Regions from separate parts of the Homo sapiens genome. Here region 2 is linked to region 1. Evidence: fine-mapped expression QTL. Tissue or cell type: whole blood. Region 1 holds a variant in brackets; the other region holds the start of a gene. All regions are shown on one strand. Distances are from middle to middle.

Region 1 (10,614 bases):
ACTGCAACCTCCACCTCCCAGCTCAAGTGACTCTCCTGCCTCAGCCTCCCAAGTAGCTGGGATTACAGGCGTGTGCCAACATGCCCGGCTAATTTTTTGTATTTTTTAGTAGAGACAGGTTTAGCCAGGATGGTCTTGATCTCCTGACCTCGTGATCCACCCGGCTCGGCCTCCCAAAGTACTGGGGTTACAGGTGTGAGCCACCAAGCCCGGCTGGATAACTTCTTTCATATGTCTCTGCCTTTAATGCTCTCTATAACCTATTAGGCAGGTACAATTATTACAATTTTCCTCCCCTCCCCCCAAGACAGAATGGGTTCTGGCACCCTGCCTGGAGTGCAGTGACCCAATCACAGCTCACTACAGCCTCCAACTCCTAGGCTCAAGCCATCCTCTGACCTCAGCCTTCCGTGTAGCTGGGATTATAGGAGTACACCACCACACCTGGCTAATTTTAATTTTTTAATAGAGACAGGGTCTTACTGTGTTTGCTCAGGCTGGTCTTCAAATCCTGGGCTCAAGGGATCCTCCTGTCTCAGCCCTGCAAGGTGTTGGAATTACAGTCGTGACCCACAAAGTCTAGCCTAATTCTTTGAATTTTAAAGATGAGTAACTATGGCTTAGAGAGGTTAAGTGGTCACACATGTAGTAAGAGGTGGTGCTGGAATGTAAAACTGGAAATATGAAGACACAGAAAAGGGATTACTTTTAATCACCATAGCTTCTAGAGACACATTAATGCCAATGGATATAGGATCAAAGGAATACTTAGCTGATGGATAGTCCACAAAATAACTGACATGTACTCCAAAAATATCAGTGTTATAAAAGACAGATTGAAGAACTATTCTAGATTAAAGAAGGTATAAGAGGCATGACCACTGAATGCAATGAGTAATCTGAGATTGACTTCTCAACAGAGGGCATATTAGGGCAACTGGGGAAATCTCAATAACATCTTTAGATTAGATAATAGTATTGTATCAATGTTAATTTCCTGATTTTGATCATTGTACTATGCTTATGTAAAAGAATGTTCTTATTCTTAGGAAATGCTCATGAAACATTATCAGTAAAGCAAAATCGTATCTGCAAAGTACTCTTAAAAGGCTCAGGGGAATAAACAAAAGAGACAAGGAAAAGGATAAAGTGATACAATGCAAATATTTGGAGAATCTCAGTAAAGAGCAAATGGTAATTATTTGCATGATTCTTGCAACTTTTTTGTAACTCTGATATTAAGTCAAAATTAGAAGTTTCTAGGCTGGGCTCTGTGGCTCATGCCGGTAATCCCAACACTTTGGGAGGCCAAGGTAGGAGGATCGCTTGAGCCGAGGAGTTTATTACCAGCCTGGACAACGTAGTAAGACCTCGTCTCTACAAAAAACTTAAAAAATTAGCTGGCATGGTGGCATGTACTTGTGGTTCCAGCTACTCGGGAGACTGAGGTGGGAGGACTGTTTGAGCCCAGGACTTAGACCAGGCTGGGCAACATGGTGAGACCCTGTTTTTACTAAAAAAAAAAAAAATTAGCCAGATGTGGTGGCACATGCCTATAGTCCCAGCTTGTTGGGAGTCTGAGGCGAGAGGATCACTTAAGCCCAGGAAGTTGAGGCTGCAGTGAGCCATGATCACGCCACTGTACTCCAGCCTCGGCAACAGAGTAAGACCCTGTCTCAAAATAAAAAAAAGTTTTTAGGGGGCCCCACCTACAGTCCCAGATACTCGGAGGCTGAGGCAGGAGGATCTCTTGATCCCAGGAGTTCAAGTCCACCCTGGGAAGAATAGTGAGACTCCCATCACTCTTTTAAAAAAAAAGTTAGCTGGCTCACACCTGTAATCTCAGCACTTTGGGAGGCCGAAGTGGGCAGATCACCTGAGGTCGGGAGTTCAAGACAAGCCTGGCCAACATGGTGAAACCCTGTTTCTACTAAAAATACAAAAATCAGCTGGGTGTGGTGGTGGGTGCCTGTAATCCCAGCTACTCGGGAGGCTGAGGCAGGAGAATAGCTTCAAGCCAGGAGGCAGAGGTTGCAGTGAGCCAAGATCGTGCCACCGCACTCCAGCCTGGGTGACAGAGTGAGACTTGGTCTCAAAAAAATAAAAATAACAATAAAAATAACAATAAAAAATGTTTAAAAAAACATTAAAAAATATGTAGGGCAGTAGAGCAATGAAAAAAGTTAAGAGGAAATATTCTGTAAACAATGAGTAACACAGGAACTGAGGTAGGAGAGACTTCAGGGATTGTAAAGGCTACAGAGGAAGATTTGCAAATCATTCATGAAAATGCATGACAGCCGGGCACGGTGGCTCATGCCTGTAATCCCAGCACTTTGGGAGGCCGAGGTGGGTGAATCACCTGAGGTCAGGAGTTCAAGACCAGCCTGGCCAATATGGTGAAACCCCATCTCTACTAAAAATACAAAAAAATTAGCTGGGTGTGGTGGCGGGCAGCTGTAATCCCAGCTACTCCAGAGGCTGAGGCAGGAAAATCACTTGAACCCGGGAGGCGGAGGTTGTGGTGAGCCAAGATTGTGCCATTGCACTCCAACCTGGGCAACAAGAGCAAAACTGCGTCTCAAAAGAAAAAAGAAAAGAAAACGCATGACAGTAATTGATGGATTAATCTCTCATTCATTCAGAAAAATACTTTCATCACTTAAATCTTAAAAAAAAAATACAGTTAAGCTTGGGCAACATGGTGAGATGCTGTCTCTACTAAAAGATACCAAAAAAATAGCTGGGTGTGGTGGTTCGTGCTTGTGGTCTCAGCTCCTTGGAGGCTGAGGCAGGAGGATCACTTGAACCCAGGAAGTTGAGGCTGCAGTGAGCCGAGATCATGCCAGTGCACTACAGCCTGGGAAACAGAGTGAGACTCTGTCTCAAAAAAAAAAAAAAAAAAAAAAGGAAAAGAAAAAACAAAATTAAAAAATACAGTTGTACAACAATTAGAATTTATTGATACCTGTTTTTCCAAACTGATGGAGACTTTTTGGTTACATAAATTAGTCTTTACTGACTCTTGGGAGGAACAGTATGTTTGAACAGAGACTAGACAGGTATCTTGAGAAAAGGAAGGGTGAAAAGAACATATTACAATAAATCAAGATATGAGGACAGGCGAGGTGGCTCATGTTTATAATCCCAGCACTTTGGGAGGCTGAGGTAGGAAGATTGCTTAAGCCCAGGAGTTCAAGACCAGCCTAGGCAACACAGTGAGACCCCAGCCCCGCAAAAAAACAAAACAAACAAAAAAAAACAAAAAAAAAAAACAAAAAAAAAACAAATTAGCCAGGCATGGTGGCTTATGCCTGTAGTCCCAGCTACTTGGGAGGCTGAAGCAGGAGAATGGCTTGAGCTGAGGAGCTGGAGGCCACAGTGAGCCATGATCACACCACTGTACTCCAGCCTGGGGGACAGAGACCCAGTATAGAGATTTCATTTTTTTCAAATTATGTTTACTGTTGTAGAGATGTCAAGAGTTCAATAAATAGCACCTCTCTTTTCAGGCAGTGGAAGACAAAAGAGAGATTTAAAATATTACTTTTAAATTTAAAATGTTGGAAGTCATAGTTTATTGTGAAGGCCAAATGGGCTTGAAGCATCCCCACTCCCACCCCCACTGTGTCCTCGACTTACCCACCAGTCACATGGGACGATGAAGACCTGCAACATGGGGAACAAAGAACTGCCCCAGGAATAGACTAGGCTGGTGGCTGGTTCTTTTGTAGAGAAAAACGGACAGGAAAAAGAAGAACTACACAAGTCAGTCCCTCAAAGGAAATGTAGCAATCAGACAGTCAGGAGACAGAAAGAGGCAGGAATATGTGGAAAAATCCACCCTTATGGAAAACAGGTAGAGTTTGGGGGCAGGGGAGAGAGGACACATTTATTTCCCTCTAATATTTTTTTCCTTTCTTTCTATTTTTTTTTTTTTAATTTTACTTTAAGTAAAATAAAAACTTTACTGAAGTTCTGGGATCCATGTGCAGAACGTGCAGGTTTGTTGCATACGTATACACGTGCCATACCGGCTTGCTGCACCTTTTCCTTTCTTTCTTTTCTCTTTCCCACTTCTCCTTCCCCTTCCCTTCCCTTCTCCTCTTCTTTTCTCTTTTCTTTTCCTTTTTAGAGACAAGGTTTCCCTCTGTTGCCCAGGCTGGAGTGCAGTCATAGGATCATAGCTCACTGCATCCTCTACCACCTGGCTCAAGCAATCCTCTCCCCTCAGCCTCCCAAGTATCTGAGACTACATGCACACACCACCAAATCTGGCTAATTTTTAAAATTTTTTGTAGAGATGGGGTCTTGCTACATTGCCCAGGCTGGCCTCAAACTCCTGGCCTCAAGAGATCCTCCGACCTAGGCCTCCCAAAGCACTGGGATTACAGGCATGAGCCACCGTGCCTGGCTTTCCCTCTAATACTTTCTATCTCAAAGAAGAGTAGAGAAAAACAAGACAAAACATGGGACTCAGCTGAACACTGAAGAATGACTTTACGGGAAGGGCTGAGGGAAAAGAGCATTTACACTGGAAGAAGAGAGAGACAAAGGCTTAGGGACTCAGTCGTAGCAGGTGGAGCCAGCGCGCTTTGGGAGATAGTTTTACTTCAGTAATTGAGGAAGGAACCAGGTTGTAATGGGTACATGAGAGTGAAGGAGGGTCTCCTTTCTGTGTTTTCTCTTTTGTCCTTTCCTCAGCTGTTGGTATCTGTTGGGATTTTGTCTTGGGTCTCCTGCATTTCTCAGTCCACATTCTTCAGGGATCATCTCATTGCTGCTCGTGCATCTCAATATAAAGAGTGCAACAAGCACAAAGGGGCTAATCTTGGAAGGAAGAAACTTGTTGTTTTCTGAGATCAGAGAAAAAATATGTTAAGATACTGAGCTGTTTCAGTGCCTAGCAATAACGAGATAGACAATGACCTTCCTTGCTTTTCTGGGTAATGTGGGAGGAGAAAGGATGATCTAATTAGTTTTTAAAATTTGTTTCCAACAAAAATTCAATACAAAAAAATTAAAAGTAAATGTCACTTCCCTTCTTTTCTTTCTTTCTTCCTACCATTGAACAAAATTTGACAGGGGAGTCAATTGTTCTGTGTGCTGGGGATACAGCAGCGACACAGATAAGACTGTTGGCTTTCATGGAATGTATTATATTCTATTTAGATAGGATAGGCAATAAGCAAATAGAAAAGAAAGAAGAAAATTACAGATACTGCTCTAAAGAAAATAAAGAGAGAAATGGACTATAGAGTGATGTGGAGGTATAGGGAGACAGGCTGAACACTAAGCCTCAGAATATTAATTTAAGAAATTATATATCTACATATTGAACACATTATACAATTGAGGTATTTAAAAAACAAATCTAGGGCCGGGCATGATGGCTGATGCCTGTAATCTCAGCACTTTGGGAGGCCGAGGTGGGCAGATCACTTGAGGTCAGGAGCTTGACATGAGACTGGCCAACATGGTGAAACCCCATCTCTACTAAAAATACAAAAATTGGCCAGGCCTGGTGGCATGCACCTGTAATCCCAGCTACTCGGGAGGCTGAGGCAGGAGAATCGCTTGAACCTGGGAGGCAGAGGTTGCAGTGAGCCAAGATCGTGCCACTGCACTCCAGCCTGGGTGACAGAGCGAGACTCCATCTCAAAAAACAAACAAACAAACAAACAACAACAACAACAACAACCCCAACAAATTTAAGATTATTTAGATGACAAAAAAATAATACCAACATTCTATAATTCTGTATATTTCTGCCTAAGGCCATTTACCCCTGATCGTATGAAACCAAAGCAAATAAGAATCAATTTTTTTGGCTGGGTGCTGTGGCTCACACCTGTCATCCCAGCACTTTGGGAGGCTGAGGCAGGTTGATTACGAGGTCAGGAGTTCGAGACCAGCCTGGGCAACATGGTGAAACTCC[G/A]TCTCTACTAAAAATACAAAAATTAGCTGGGCGTGGTGGCACGTGCCTGTAGTCCCAGCTACTCGGGAGGCTGAGGCAGGAGGATTACTTGAACCACGGAGTCGGAGGTTGCAGTGAGCTGAGATCACGACACTGCACTCCAGCCTGGTAACAGAGTGAGACTCCATCTCAAAAAAAAAAAAAAAATCAAAAAACATTTTAAGCTCAATTCACCTATCTGTATGACTGTTTGCTAGAACACTCACATGCTAAATTTTATTACACTTTTTTTGAAAGAACAGGCCCATAAAGAATCTGTGACTAAAGACCCCACATGGAGCCAGGTGTGGTGGCTCACTTCTGTAATCCCGGCACTTTAGGAGGCCAAGGCAGGAGGATCCCTTGAGCCCAGGAGTTCAAGACCAGCCTGGGCAACATAGGGAGACTCTGTTTCTATTAAAAAAAAATGAAGATGAAAAAAGTAAAAAAGATAAAAGATTCCACATGGACTGGGTGGAGTGGCTCATGCCTATAATCCCAGCCCTTTGGGAGGCCAAGGCAGGAGGATCCCATGAAGGCAGGAATTTGAGACCAGCCTGGGCAACATAGTGAGACCCGTCTGTACAAAAAATAAAAAAATCAGCTGGGAGTGGTGGCATGGGCCTGTAGTCCTAGCTACTTGGGAGGCTTAAGGCAGGAGGGTTGCTTGAGCCCAGGAGTTCAAGGCTGCAGTGAGCCATGACTGCACTACTGCACTCCAGCCTGGGTGACGGAGCAAGACCCTGTCTCTATTTAAAAACATAAAAATAAAGAAAAGATCCTACAAGGACAAACATTTTCTGGTGTATTTGGCCATATAATTAATTTTGGTTAACTGGATGGACACACCAATTAATTCTATGATTAACAAAAATTCGTAGCTGTGGACATCAGTGCCGCACAAGTAAAGACCTGGCTGCAGTTCCTGCTTGCCCACTGATTCATTGATTCGGCCATCTTGTAGTGTATATTTGTTGTTCTAAGCTCTGAGGATACCAGCAGTCAATATCACAGACGTGTTCTTTGCTCTCCTAGAGTTTGATCTAATGGACACAGCATTTTATCTTTCTTTTAGTCACCAAAGGTAATAGGAATTAGATAAATGTTTTCATTATTTATTTGAGGTCCCTAGCATCATAGCTTTGTTCTTTGCTCTAGCTTCTGGTATTAATGAAAGCGTCACCCCCCCAACCTTTTTTTTTTTTTTTTTGTGATGGAGTCTCGCTCCGTCTCCGAGGCTGGAGTGCAGTGGTGTGATTTTGGCTCACTGCAACCTCTGCATCCCGGGTTCAAGCAATTCTCCTGCCTCAGCCTCCTGAGTAGCTGGGACCATAGGCGCATGCCACCAAGCCCAGGTAATTTTTGTATTTTTAGTAGAGATGGGGTTTCACTGTGTTGGCCAGGTTGGTCTTGAACTCCTGACCTCAGGTGATCCGCCCGCCTTGGCCTCCCAAAGTGCTGGGATTACAGGTGTGAGCCACTGCGCCCGGCTGAGCCTTTTGAATATATCTTTATGTATAAGCATTTGAATATCTATGTAAATAGACTATATATATATTTTTAGAAAATGCCAAAAGAAAGAAATTAACATTTTATAGAGTGTATAGTACATTCCTGGAACTGTGCTAGTAACAGGTAATGATAATGACCCAATCATACTAATAATAGTAAATCAAGATGATCATACCAGAAATAAATGGCAGGAACTGAAAGTAAAAGAGACACATTACGACTCTGATTGCAGTATTAGAAATAAGTGAGGACAGTAATGAGAAAGAAGACATCACTAGTTTATAATGCCTACACATATTTTAGAGCACAATTTAAAATGTTAGTGACATTTCTGCTACATGTTTGCTACATAACATTAACAACTTGCTTAATAAAGCCCTAACAGATGGCATTCAGAAAATTACATATGCTGTGAACTTTGAAAGTTTAGGGGATAAAAATTTAATTTTAGATCCTCTAATTGTTCTATAGTTGTTAAAGAGAAGATAAAGCATGATTAGATATAGAAAAGATATTCAGTATTCAATAATTACATGACATAAAGTAACAAAGTTAAAGAGGAAACAAAAACAGATCCATTATTCTGATTCAGGTACCAATTTGTTAATTAAAGAAATTTTAAAAAGCTTTTTCAAAAATAGAAAGAGAGAGGGAGAGAGGAGAGATAAGAGCAAGAGAGAAAGAGAAATAGGTATCTGAAAAGTACATGGCCTTGGAGAATTTCATAGTGCTTTCTTGAAAATGATGTCAATGGAAATAAATACCAACGATATAAATAAACCCTGTTATTTAAAGACAATGTTTGTAAGGTGATTAGAATGACTTTAATGACGCTTTAAAATGGAATTTCAATTGTATTTCAATGACTTGGTTGAGATATGAGGTACATTCTTTTTAAAAATTTCTTTCATTTTTTTCTTTTTTTTTTTTTTCTGACCAATGGATTCATGTCCTAAGTACATTCTTTTTTCAGAGGGATGTTAAAGTATTCGAAGTCTGAATGATTACTGAATGATTACTCCAGATCACGTTACAATAGCAACACTGGAAATAAATGAAATATAATTTGTGTTGCTGGTATGAGGCTTGAAGGTATTGCGTATAACATGTAAGAACTGGGGAAAAACAACCCTCTGTGAGTGAAACTATGAAGTCATCATTTCCTGGTTTAGAGCAGAGGTATGTAGTCATCAGGAAAGCAGGTTCACTGGCTTCCAGGTCTAGAATAAATTAGCACATGTGAGACAATGTGGTAATGACAGAGGTGGATGGGGATTGCCAATCTGAAATCCATAAAATCAAAGTCTGGAGGAGAATGCATATCTTGGCAGTGTCTAGGGCAGTGGTCTTTAAAAGCTTGTTTTTGGCCATGAACTATAATAAATGCTTTTATTTTATTTAATTATTTTTATAGAGATGAGGTCTTGCTATGTTGTGCAGGCTGGAACTCCTGGGCTCAAGGAATTCTCCTGCCTCAGCCTCCCAAGTAGCTGGGACTACAAGTGTGCCACTGCATCTGGTTAAGAAATACATTTTAGATGGGGCTTGGTGGCTCACACCTGTTAGCTCAACACTTTGGGAGGCTGAGGTGGGAGGATCACTTGAGTCTAGGAATTCGAGACCAGCCTGGGTATCATAATGAGGCCGTGTTTCTACAAAAACAAACAAAAACTTAGCTGGGCATGGTGGCATGCACCTGTGATCCCAGCTACTTGAAAGGCTGAAGTGGGAGGATTGCTTGAGACCCAGAGGTTAAGGTTGCAGTGCGCCATAATTGTACCACTGCACTGCAGCCTGGGCAACAGAGTGAGACCCTGTCTCAAAAACAAAACACCCCCAAAAACCCCTAACATCTTATATTGCGATCTGCTTTCTCGCTTTGTGTGTGTGTATATCAGAAACCTGAGATCTAGAGGATGAGGAGGACTTAGGGGAGGTTAGTATTCTAGGTAGGCAGTATTCTAAGTAGAGAAGGCAGAATGTGGTGAAGAGCCTGAGAAAAGAAACAGCTGGAAGAGTTTAAGGAATTCAAAAAAGGCCACTGAATACCATGGAGGAGCTCAAAAGAAGTTTGGGTTTGGATCAGGCAGGGCCTGTACCCTGTGGCCTGGGCAGTGTTTGCTGGAATGGTGTAGCCCAGTGAGCTGAGTGTAAGCACCTCTTCCTAGCCCCATTTTGGTAGCTCTACGCTGGCCATAGTGGGAGTATTCATTCATTCCATCCTGCCATGAAAATCTAGGCCCCACTATGAAAATCAGGGTCTTTTTTCCTGGGAGCTGATGGTTAAACATTCATGAACACACCTTTGGGGTTATTCTACTACTTTTTAGATTTGTTGCATTTCCCTCCAGGGTTCAGGAGACAGAAACTATCCCCACAAACTAAACACCAGCCCCAAAGTTAATATTATGTCCCTTTTTCTTTTCTTTTCTTTTCTTTTTTTCTCCCTATATCACCTAGGCTAGAGTGCAGTGGCACCATCTTGGCTTACTGCAGCCTCCGCCTTCTGGGTTCAAGTGATTCTCCTGCCTCAGCCTCCCAAGTAGCTGGAACTATTTATATTTTCAGTAGAGATGGGGTTTTGCCATGTTGGCCAGGCTGGTCTCAAACTCCTGATCTCAAGCAATCTTCCCACTCGGACTCCCAAAGTGCTGGGATTACAGGCATGAGCCACTGCTCCCAGCCATTTTTTTTTTTTTTCATTTTTGTCAGCTAACATTCCTTCTCATTTATTGGAATTAAGTTTTGATTTTTTTGAAGGAAAAAATTGTAATGAAATTTTTTTCCTCTGTTTTTGATCTCTTTATTTTACATGACTGGACATTTTAGAAAATTAAGATAAAATTGTGCTTTTACTATGCATTTGAAACTACTTAGTAGTTTTTATGAAGCTATCAACAAGGAACGTAACTGCTGTATTATAAGCTGTGGAACTGAATAATTTAAATGTTTAGAGCTTAAGACTTTTTTTCTTTTCTTATCAAGGGATATGTATGCATTTCCATTATTAGAAGAAAAGTGCATGGATATTTTGTATTGCTTCTGGGTTAAGAAGACAGTCATTTTTATTCTGTTCTATTCATTGCATTTCATTCTATTTGTGACAAAAAAAAATCTGGGAAACTTTTTCTCAACTATAGATGCCC
Region 2 (9,404 bases), 250 kb after region 1:
TCATCTGAATGGCCTTGGGTATGCTATTAACCACCTAGTGGCTTTGTTTAATCAGAGCAAAATGGGGTTCAGTCATTCATTTAAGAAATAGCTGGGCACTTAATTTGTGTCAGGCACCGTTCTAAGTGCTGGAAATACAACCATGAATACAAAAACATCCCCGTCCTCATGGACCTCATAGTCTATTCACAGACAAATAACAAACAAATTCAGTCCGATGGCCATAAAAGGCACAGAAAATGAAAGGGATGAAACAGATAAGGATGCTATGTTAGTTGAAAACAACAACGGCTAATACGTCTTGTGTGCTTATTTTTTTTTCTCCCCTCAAAATTTGTATATTGAAACCTAATCACCAATGTGAGTAGCAGGAAGTTGGGGCCTTTGGGGTGATTAGGTTATAAGGGTAGAACCCTCACTGTTGGGATTGGTGCCCTTATAAAAGTGATCCCAGAGAGCTAGCTGGGCATGGTGGGGAGCACTTGTAATCCCAGCTACGTGGGAGACTGAGGCAGGAGAATTGCTTGAACCCAAGAGGTGGAGGTTGCAGTGAGCCAAGATTGTGCCACTGAACTCCAGCCTGGGTGACAGAGCAAGACTGTCTCCAACAACAACAACAAAAAACAACAAAATACCTCATATGTTAGATTTTTTAAATTGAGCCTACAAAAGTAATTTATCCATATCTACGTTTAAATCACTCCATATTTCAATACTTAAATTATTATTATTATTTTTTTGAGATAGGGTCTCACTCTGTTACCCAGGCTGGAGTGCAGTGGTACGATCTCAGCTCACTGCAATGTCTGCCCCCGGATTCAAGTGATTCTCCCGCCTCAGCCTCGGAAGTAGCTGGGCCTGCAGGCGCAGCACCACTACGCGGGGCTATTTTATTTTTTTAGTAGCAAGGGTGGTCTCACCATGTTGCTCAGGGTAGTCTCGAACTCCTGAGCTTGGAGCAATCCACTGGCCTCAGCATCCAAAGTGCTGGAATTACAGGTGTGAGCCACCGCACTTGGCCTCCAATTATTATTATTATTATTATTACTAGTTTTTGAGAGTCTTGCTGTGTTGCCCAGGCTGGAGTGCAGTGGCACGATTGTGGCTCACTGCAAACTCTGCCTCCTGGGTTCAAGCAATTCTCCTGCCTCAGCCTCCCGAGCAGCTGGGATTACAGGCACCCACCATCATGGCTGGCTAATTTTTTTTTTTTTTTTTTTTTAAGTAGAGCTGGGGTTTCACAATGTTGGCCAGGTTGGTCTCAAACTCCTGACCTCAGGTGATCCCAACTGACAGATAAAACTGTGTGTATATGTCATGTACAACATAATGTTTTGAAGTATACGTACATTGTGAAATGGTTAACTCTAGCTAATTAAAAAATGTTTTACCTCACATAGTTATTTTAGTAATGAGAACACTTAACATCTGCTGTGTTTTTCAAAAACACAATGTTTTCCAAGATTACAATGTCATTAACTATAGCCACCATGCTGTCCAATAGATCTCTTGAATGTATTCCTCCTATTCAACTGTAATTATGTATCCTTTGACCAACATCTCCCCAACCCTCCTTCACCCCTAACCATGCCAGCCCTTGGTAACCACCATTCTATTCTCTACTTCTATGAACACCAAAATTATTTAAAGGCTGTACTTGTCAAGAAATATAAATGTATCATTTCAAGTTCAGATAATGTGTGTATTTAATTCTTATTTACCTGCCGTTTGAAGACAATAAAGCATATAGAACACAAAATTTAAACCTGATCTTACCTTTGTAAGATAATCCACTTTCAAATTGTCGATCATCATAGTTTTCTGGGATAGCTCAATTTTTAGTAACTGAATATTATGAAGTAGTTCTTTTCGTTCAATTAGCTGCCTGGTGATTCTGACTTTGCCCTCTCGCTCTTCTGATGAGGAAATATCATCCGTAGGAACTGTTGTTTCTAAACTAATATCTTCAGATTCCAGAGAACTAGAGATGTTCACTTTTTTTGACTCCTTTGAAATTTTTCGAGACATTTTTATTATTATGGATCAGTTTTCTTCTCTAATTTGATTTTAATATTCTGTAGGTTAAAAAACATTAATTCAAATGTACTATAAAATTAACTACAGAAATCATGGACTGTATTAAAGAGAGACTAAGGATTCCTTAAATAAATATTAGGCAATTTAGTGCATCCCAAATCTAGAACAGATTATTGCAGTTAAGTTAATGCTCAAATCAAACACATTAATTCCTAATATGAAGTCAGCCTTCGAGAAACTTAAAAAAACAGTTCCTGCGGGGAGGAATCTTACTTGGAGGAAACAAAGAAATGTACAAGATGAAGAAAAAAGCCCATTATAATCAAGAATGGCACCACTAAAACCAACACATGCTCAAAGATAACAGAAATCACGTCTGAGTTGGTCAGGGAAACGTTACACAGAGGTAGCACTTAGAATCTTTAAAGATTTGGACAGGCATGGTAAAAAGGAGAAATCATGCAGTTATTAATGATACGTAAGTGGAAGTAAAAAAACAAAGCCAAGTCTTGGAATAGTTACTCCTTTCACCGCCCCCCCAACACAAACACAAACACACACACACACACACACACACACACACACGCCCTTAACGATCAAGACTGGAAGGCCTTAAATGTCAAAATAGGGTTGGATTTTATTCTACAGGCAATGAGGCATCATTGAAGATGTTTTAAATAGGGAAAACGGGGACAAAAACATTTTTTATAGATAGCAGAATGAAAACAACAGGATATAAGAAAAATTCAAGAAATTCTAAATAGAACTTACTTCTAACTCTCTCATAAGAATGTTAGCAACTACCTTGTTTTAATACCTCATGATATAACAAATTATGCTATTAAATATTTCAGTTTTTCTAAACTGAATGATAAGGAAAGGTGTGTGGAGGGGAAACAGCGAGAACTATACTAAGATCGGCCTCCCTCCTTCTTTTTGAAGGGAAATAGGTAAGAAAAAGTGAATTCAAAGACAAATTCTCTCCTCGATTACAAAGGGCCCGAGACGGGGACTGCCTATACACTCGGCGTGAAAATTAAGCCCCAAACTTGGCAGCTCGGGGGATTCCTTGCCCCACGCGGGAAAGAAAGCGATGATAGTCGCAAGTTACCTCGAAAGTGTCAATTACTCCACACTGAAGCCTTGACCAGCAGCCAGTGCAGACACCGAGGGACCAAAGGCGTCTCCGGTCGGAAGCACAAGGTTGCAGGCCCTCAACAAGGGATTTCAAGGCAGGGGACCGTTAGGACCCGTAACCAAGACAACCATCTCCGCACCCGCAAGGAGGACAGAACCAGCACTCCCACAAGCCGCCGGAAGTCAACTCTCCCGGATGTTCCGAGGAGCGGAAAGCAACACACGTTGTGAGGTGGCGTCCAGAAGGAAGCCCCGCCTAGGCCACGGGCGGAAATGGCTCCTCGCCTTGCTTTGCCGCCCCTCCCCACTCTCGCCCAATCCCCGCGGCCGTCAGAGAGCCAACCAATGTTTATCTCGGCATTTTCCCGCGAGAAGTGTTACTAATATCCGGGAATGGAAAGGGAAGAACCTCCGGGGTTAGGCGTATTCTAGATTGACGCCTTTTGCTGGAAGAGCGCTGCTGGGGTTAGGATTCTGCGCGGCGAGGCAAGATGCTCAAGTCCAAGACGTTCTTAAAAAAGACCCGGGCGGGCGGCGTGATGAAGATCGTGCGCGAGCACTACCTGCGAGACGACATCGGCTGCGGTGCGCCCGGGTGCGCAGCGTGTGGAGGGGCGCACGAGGGGCCGGCCCTGGAGCCGCAGCCCCAGGACCCGGCGAGCAGCGTCTGCCCGCAACCGCACTACTTGCTGCCCGACACTAATGTGTTACTGCACCAGGTGCGTGGGCGGGCGAACCGCGGACAGCGCGGCCCCACGGGGACAAGGGGGTATGACAGGGAAACTGAGGCCCAGGGAGGCGGGTCTTTGGCAGTGTCACATACCTAGCGAAAGGGAAACCCCCTCGGGACCGAAGCTTCCTGTTCCCCAGGCCGAGGTTCTTTTCCTTGTGCTTTAAAAAATTTAGTTCTTGGAGTCGTAGTTCAGACACGTTATTTTTCTAACTCCTGGTGTCTCTTCTGCCTTAGATTGTAAGTGCCTGGAGGCCGGGGACCTGGGCTTCTGTGGCCTCCAGCCTGCGACTCCCAGGCAGCTTGTAAGTGCCTAGGAACAAAAAACTATGTGGGCCAACGTATTCCTTTATTAATACCCTTAATTCTACGAAGTCTTGTGATTGGTCTGTTTAAGTGTGCTTTTTTTAATAGATCTGAAGGGTTTAGTGACTATTGTCTCGTTTTCTATAGCCAAATAGCTTCTTGGCTTAACTTATTCAGTGTTTTTAAAACATAAAGTATTTATGCCCAACATAAAACAGGATTTTATGTTTGACAGAGCTATTTACAAATGAATATAGGAAAAATTAACTTTATCTTTCTTTAAGATTGATGTTCTTGAGGACCCTGCCATCAGGAATGTAATTGTGCTACAAACAGTTCTTCAAGAAGTGAGAAATCGCAGTGCCCCCGTATATAAACGCATCCGAGATGTGACTAATAACCAAGAGAAGCATTTCTATACTTTCACTAATGAGCACCATAGGTAGGAGGAATATTACGTTAAATATCAGAAAACCACAGGATTAGCAAAATTCGGGAGAGGGTTCCTGTGAGTAATTTATGACATTGTCAGAAGATAAGTGATAGATTTCATACCTTATTTAATTCTTACATGGCTGTGCAGAAGATAATGCTAAGTGGATCTCTCTAAGGTCACACAGGCATTGATGGGCTCAAGCCTAAAACCAAGGTCTGCTGACTCCTAGACTACAATAGGTACTTTAATTTCCAAAATGTTTTCATTTTGAATTGGTTTTAGCATGAGTTGGACCATAGAATCTTGGAAGATGAGATTTGCTTAAGTTCCTGGAATACCATATTATGTGAACAACTAACAGAGGGTAATAAAATATATGAGTTTGTGAAGTTTCTATTTTGTTTAAAAATAGAAAGTAGATTTATTCTTAATGGTCTTTTTAAAAGTTTAATACTTTGCAGCTGATTACATTGAGCAAGATTAGGTTAAGGAATAGAATTCTTTTTTTTTTTTTTTTTTTTTTTTTGAGATGGAGTCTCACTCTGTCACCCAGGCTGGAGTGCAGTGGTGTGATCTCTGCTCACTGCAACCTCCACCTCCCAAGTTCAAGCGATTCTTCTGCCTCAGCCTCCTGAGTAGCTGGGATTACAGTCACGCACCACTATGCCAGGCTAATTTTTGTATTTTTAGTAGAGACAGGGTTTCACCATGTTGGTCAGGCTGGTCTCGAATTCCTGACCTCGTGATCCACCTGCCTCAGCCTCTCAAAGTGGTGGGATTACAGGCATGAGCTACCGTGCCTGGCCAGGAATATAATTCTTTGTTGTGCTTTTAGATTCAAGACCTTTGAACTCAGTGTGTGGTCTCAAAAATATGATATTGCCTATTACGTTATATTACATAAATAATCTATGATGAGTATGGTACTTTTATTGGATTAGATCAGGGCTTCTCAATCTTGGCATTATAGATATTTTGAACTGAATAATTTTTTTGTGGTGGAAAGGCTGTTTTATACATTGTAGTATGTTTAACAGTGTTCCTAGCCTATTTGGCAGGATCACCACCCCTTACCCCCCCCACCACCACCACCACCACCACCACTCAGTTGTAATGATACAAAATGCCCTGAGGGGTGAATTCACTCAATTGAGAACCATTGGATTAGAGTGTAGACTTCTGGTAATGAAATTCCATCAGATTATGCACATTTTTAAAAACCTTAATATCTCAACTTTCTTGATTCTTATATCTCAAACTTCAATGTTCTTGTAAAGAATACCAGTAAAGCCCTTGTAGGCTTCTTATTGTTAGTACCTCCTTGAAATCCAGAAATAGCAACATCACTTGTTTTTCAGTGCAGAAAGACCCAAGTTTAAAACCAATTCAAAAATTTATGACTGTGTCTTTCACTGATGAGCTTAAAACATTAGCAGCTGGGCGTGGTGGCTTATGTCTGTAATCCTGGCACTTTGGGAGGTTGAGGTGGGCAGATCACTTGAGGCCAGGAGTTCCAGACCAGCTTAGCCAACCTGGAAAATCCCTGTCTCTTAAAAATACAAAAATTAGCTGGTTATGGTGGTACATGCCTCTAGTCCCAGCTACTTGCGAGGCTGAGTTGGGAGGATCACTTGAACCCGGAGGTAGAGGTTGCAGTAAGCTGAGATCATGCCACTGCACTCCAGCCTGAGCTACAGAGCAAGACTCTGTTTCAAAAAAAAAAAAAAAGCATTAGCAAGTGCATTCAACGATGAGGAATAAAATAATTCTAAAACTATTAATATAAATCAAATTATTAAATTGAATCTATTACCATTAAGTACTGGAAGCTATTGTAGTGAACTTTGCTGTTGTACTTAAACCTGGCTTTGATGAACAGATTTAAAGAAATAGATGAATGTGTTGACATACTTGGGAGTTTAGATAGAAGAAATACGTAATATCTATTAATATACCTGACTTTTCAGTCTCTACATAGCTTCAGCTATTAGTGTTTACCATGGATAATTTATATGCATTATTTATTAATGACTGTAGAATTCTGATTATAAATGATCTAATTATACTATTTGTAGCTTTTAGGAATTGCTATTAACCTACAGTTTGAATGAAATCTGATTATCATACCTGTGAAATTGTATTATAATTTGTCAACAAACTATTATTTAGTGTCTCAACCTAAAGTATAAATTCTGATCTTGAATTTTTCTTTTTAGGAAATAAAATTGTATTAGCCTTTTTCTTGTCCCCTTAATAACATAATTTTCTTCTTTTCCAAGCAAATTGTTTCTTAAAAACTTAATTATAAGAATCTTGATTTCTTCTCTGAGGTGTACATCTGAATACATTCAAGAGAAAAGATATACCATTGACTTTTTCTAGTTTAGTGGTTAAGCATTTATGTGCTAAGAGTTTTCACATATCCTTGTTTCTACTGATTTCCTTTTATTTCGTTTTTTCTTTCCATTTAGAGAAACCTATGTAGAACAAGAACAGGGAGAAAATGCTAATGACAGGAATGATAGAGCGATTCGAGTAGCAGCAAAATGGTACAATGAACATTTGAAAAAAATGTCAGCAGACAACCAGCTGCAAGTTATCTTCATAACAAATGACAGGAGAAACAAAGAGAAAGCCATAGAAGAAGGAATACCAGCTTTCACTTGTAAGTCTAAATGTAGAAGTACTTAGTGCATGTTTGCAAATGCGTGTAAAAATAATCATTAGGCCTATAGTCAGATGTTCACTTTACTATTTAGTATTTTCGTAGTCCTATATAACTTCATGTGATATTTTTGTATTTTTAAATTTCACATAGTTTTTAACCTAAATATGTTGTGCCCAGTGGCTGTTAATTTTCCCCTCACTATTTGCAACTGGTTTAGCAATGAAATCTCATAAATATACTGGAACCCCTGCTTCTGCTTAGGTATGATCACATCAACAGATTTTTGGGTTTTGTTTTTTAAATAAATTGAGGCCAGGTGCTGTAATCCCAGCACTTTGGGAGGTCAGGGCAAGAGGCTTGCTTGAGACCAGGAGTTCAGGACCAGCCTGGGCAACATAGGGAGACTATAGCTCTACAGGAAAAAAAAAAAAAGCCGTGCATGGTAGTATGTAACTATAGTCCCAGCTACTCGGGAGGCTAAGGCAGGAAGGTAGCTTGAGCCCAGGGATTCTAGGCTGTAGTGATGTGTAATTGCGCCGCTGCACTCCAGCCTGAGAGACAGAGTGAGACTCTCAGTGTGTCTCAATGAATGAAAGAATGACGTGTATACTGTCGCAAACAAGACTATCCATTTTTTTCATATCTAAGGAAAAAACACTTATCAAAAACAACATAAACTTATTTTTTCAGGTGAAGAATATGTAAAGAGCCTAACTGCTAACCCCGAACTCATAGATCGTCTTGCTTGTTTGTCTGAAGAAGGGGTATGTTTTTGTTTTGTTTTTGAAAAGTAAAAATATTAAAATAGCCACTTTGGAATATTAGGCATATAGTTACCAAATTTAAAAATTGGAATGTCGGTGGGTAAGCTGGATTTGGAATAGTTGTGTTATAAACAGGAGTGGATGTCATAGGCTTATTGAAATGCCATTCCTAAAGGAGTTAACTTTCTAAAATAGATATATTCCCATTAACCTGAGTAGGGCCTGGTACCTGGTAGCACTGTTTGGTTGAGGAAAAAATGAACGGAGTCCATGGCTGATTTGTGAATAAAGAGTAGCTGCTGACAAATGAAGTGGCAGGCACTGCAGACAGAGGAAAGAAGAGGGAGGGGAGTGTCCAGATAGTAAAGACCTAGAACTTATTCTGTAGGTTAGTAATTTTTCAATTGATTTATAAAGATCTCCCTGAAGGGCTGCTATGAAGAGGAAAGGATTCTGAGATCCCTTCCTTATATGTCAGGCTAAGAAAAAGTAATGGTATATGAATGTGGATTGGTGGAGCAGGAGAGAATGATTGGAAATGGTATTTGTTTGTAAGACCACTCTCATGTCAGTGTGTAACATTAAGCATTTTATCCAGGAAAGATTAGAGGCAGAGAGGTGAGTAAAGGAGTCATTACAATAGCTGATGTGAGAAGGAGTGCTAAGGGAATAATTAAATTCTGAGCATTCATTTTCTTATATATAAATATATAATGTTTAGCAATAATAACTTCATAGTGTTGTTATAAGGATCAAATAAGATGATAACTGTAGCATTAATACAATTTTCATCCTAGTGCCTGGCACATAGGTATGGTAAATATAAATGGTAGCCCTTGTTATAGAAATAGGTTTTAAGTGATAGGACATTATACATAAATCCAGTCTTTACACTTCTGTCATCCCTTCTTACCTTTATGATACTTTATGAAACCAAAAGGAAATGAGAAGATAAAAGTTGGGTTTGATTTTTGAAATACAGATTTAGTATTGCCCTAATATGTAGCCACTTAGTTATATATGACTATTTAAATTTAATATGTATTAAAAATTCAGTTTCTTGGTGGTACTATCTGTCTTTCAAGTGCCCAAGAGAAACTTGTGTCTAGTGGCTACCATATTAGAGATCGCAAAATGAATACTTCCTTCATCATAGAAAGCTGTTTTTGTTAGCACTGGCCTATAAGAAACACTGCTATCTTCTCTCCTATTCAGAGTTGTGTATATCATAATGTAGATTTCAAAAATTCTCTGATATTAATAATAGTTGTGTATTGAGTGAACAGAAGACTTATTAGCGGCATCTTTTGGTTTGCTTCTTTCATA

The links. PIP is the estimated chance that this variant, and not a neighbour inherited with it, causes the effect.
Region 2: PIBF1 starts here. The variant in region 1 is fine-mapped to the expression of PIBF1 in whole blood (TOPMed, PIP 0.97).

Annotation. Positions count from the first base shown.
Region 1 is chr13:73,023,445-73,034,058 of GRCh38, reverse strand. No RefSeq gene overlaps it. Among named protein-coding and RNA genes, the nearest start is that of KLF5, 30 kb to the left of the region's middle. The variant G/A (reference allele first, on the strand shown) is at 5,939.
Region 2 is chr13:72,776,094-72,785,497 of GRCh38, reverse strand. PIBF1 (progesterone immunomodulatory binding factor 1) reads right to left here and starts at 3,365. Exons shown (of 18, transcript NM_006346.4): 1 at 3,149-3,365; 2 at 1,777-2,075. The coding sequence starts at 2,028. DIS3 (DIS3 exosome endoribonuclease and 3''-5'' exoribonuclease) reads left to right here and starts at 3,598. Exons shown (of 21, transcript NM_014953.5): 1 at 3,598-3,893; 2 at 4,495-4,652; 3 at 7,118-7,311; 4 at 8,005-8,078. The coding sequence starts at 3,666. RefSeq lists enhancers at 3,465-3,574, 3,492-4,406 and a silencer at 3,855-3,904.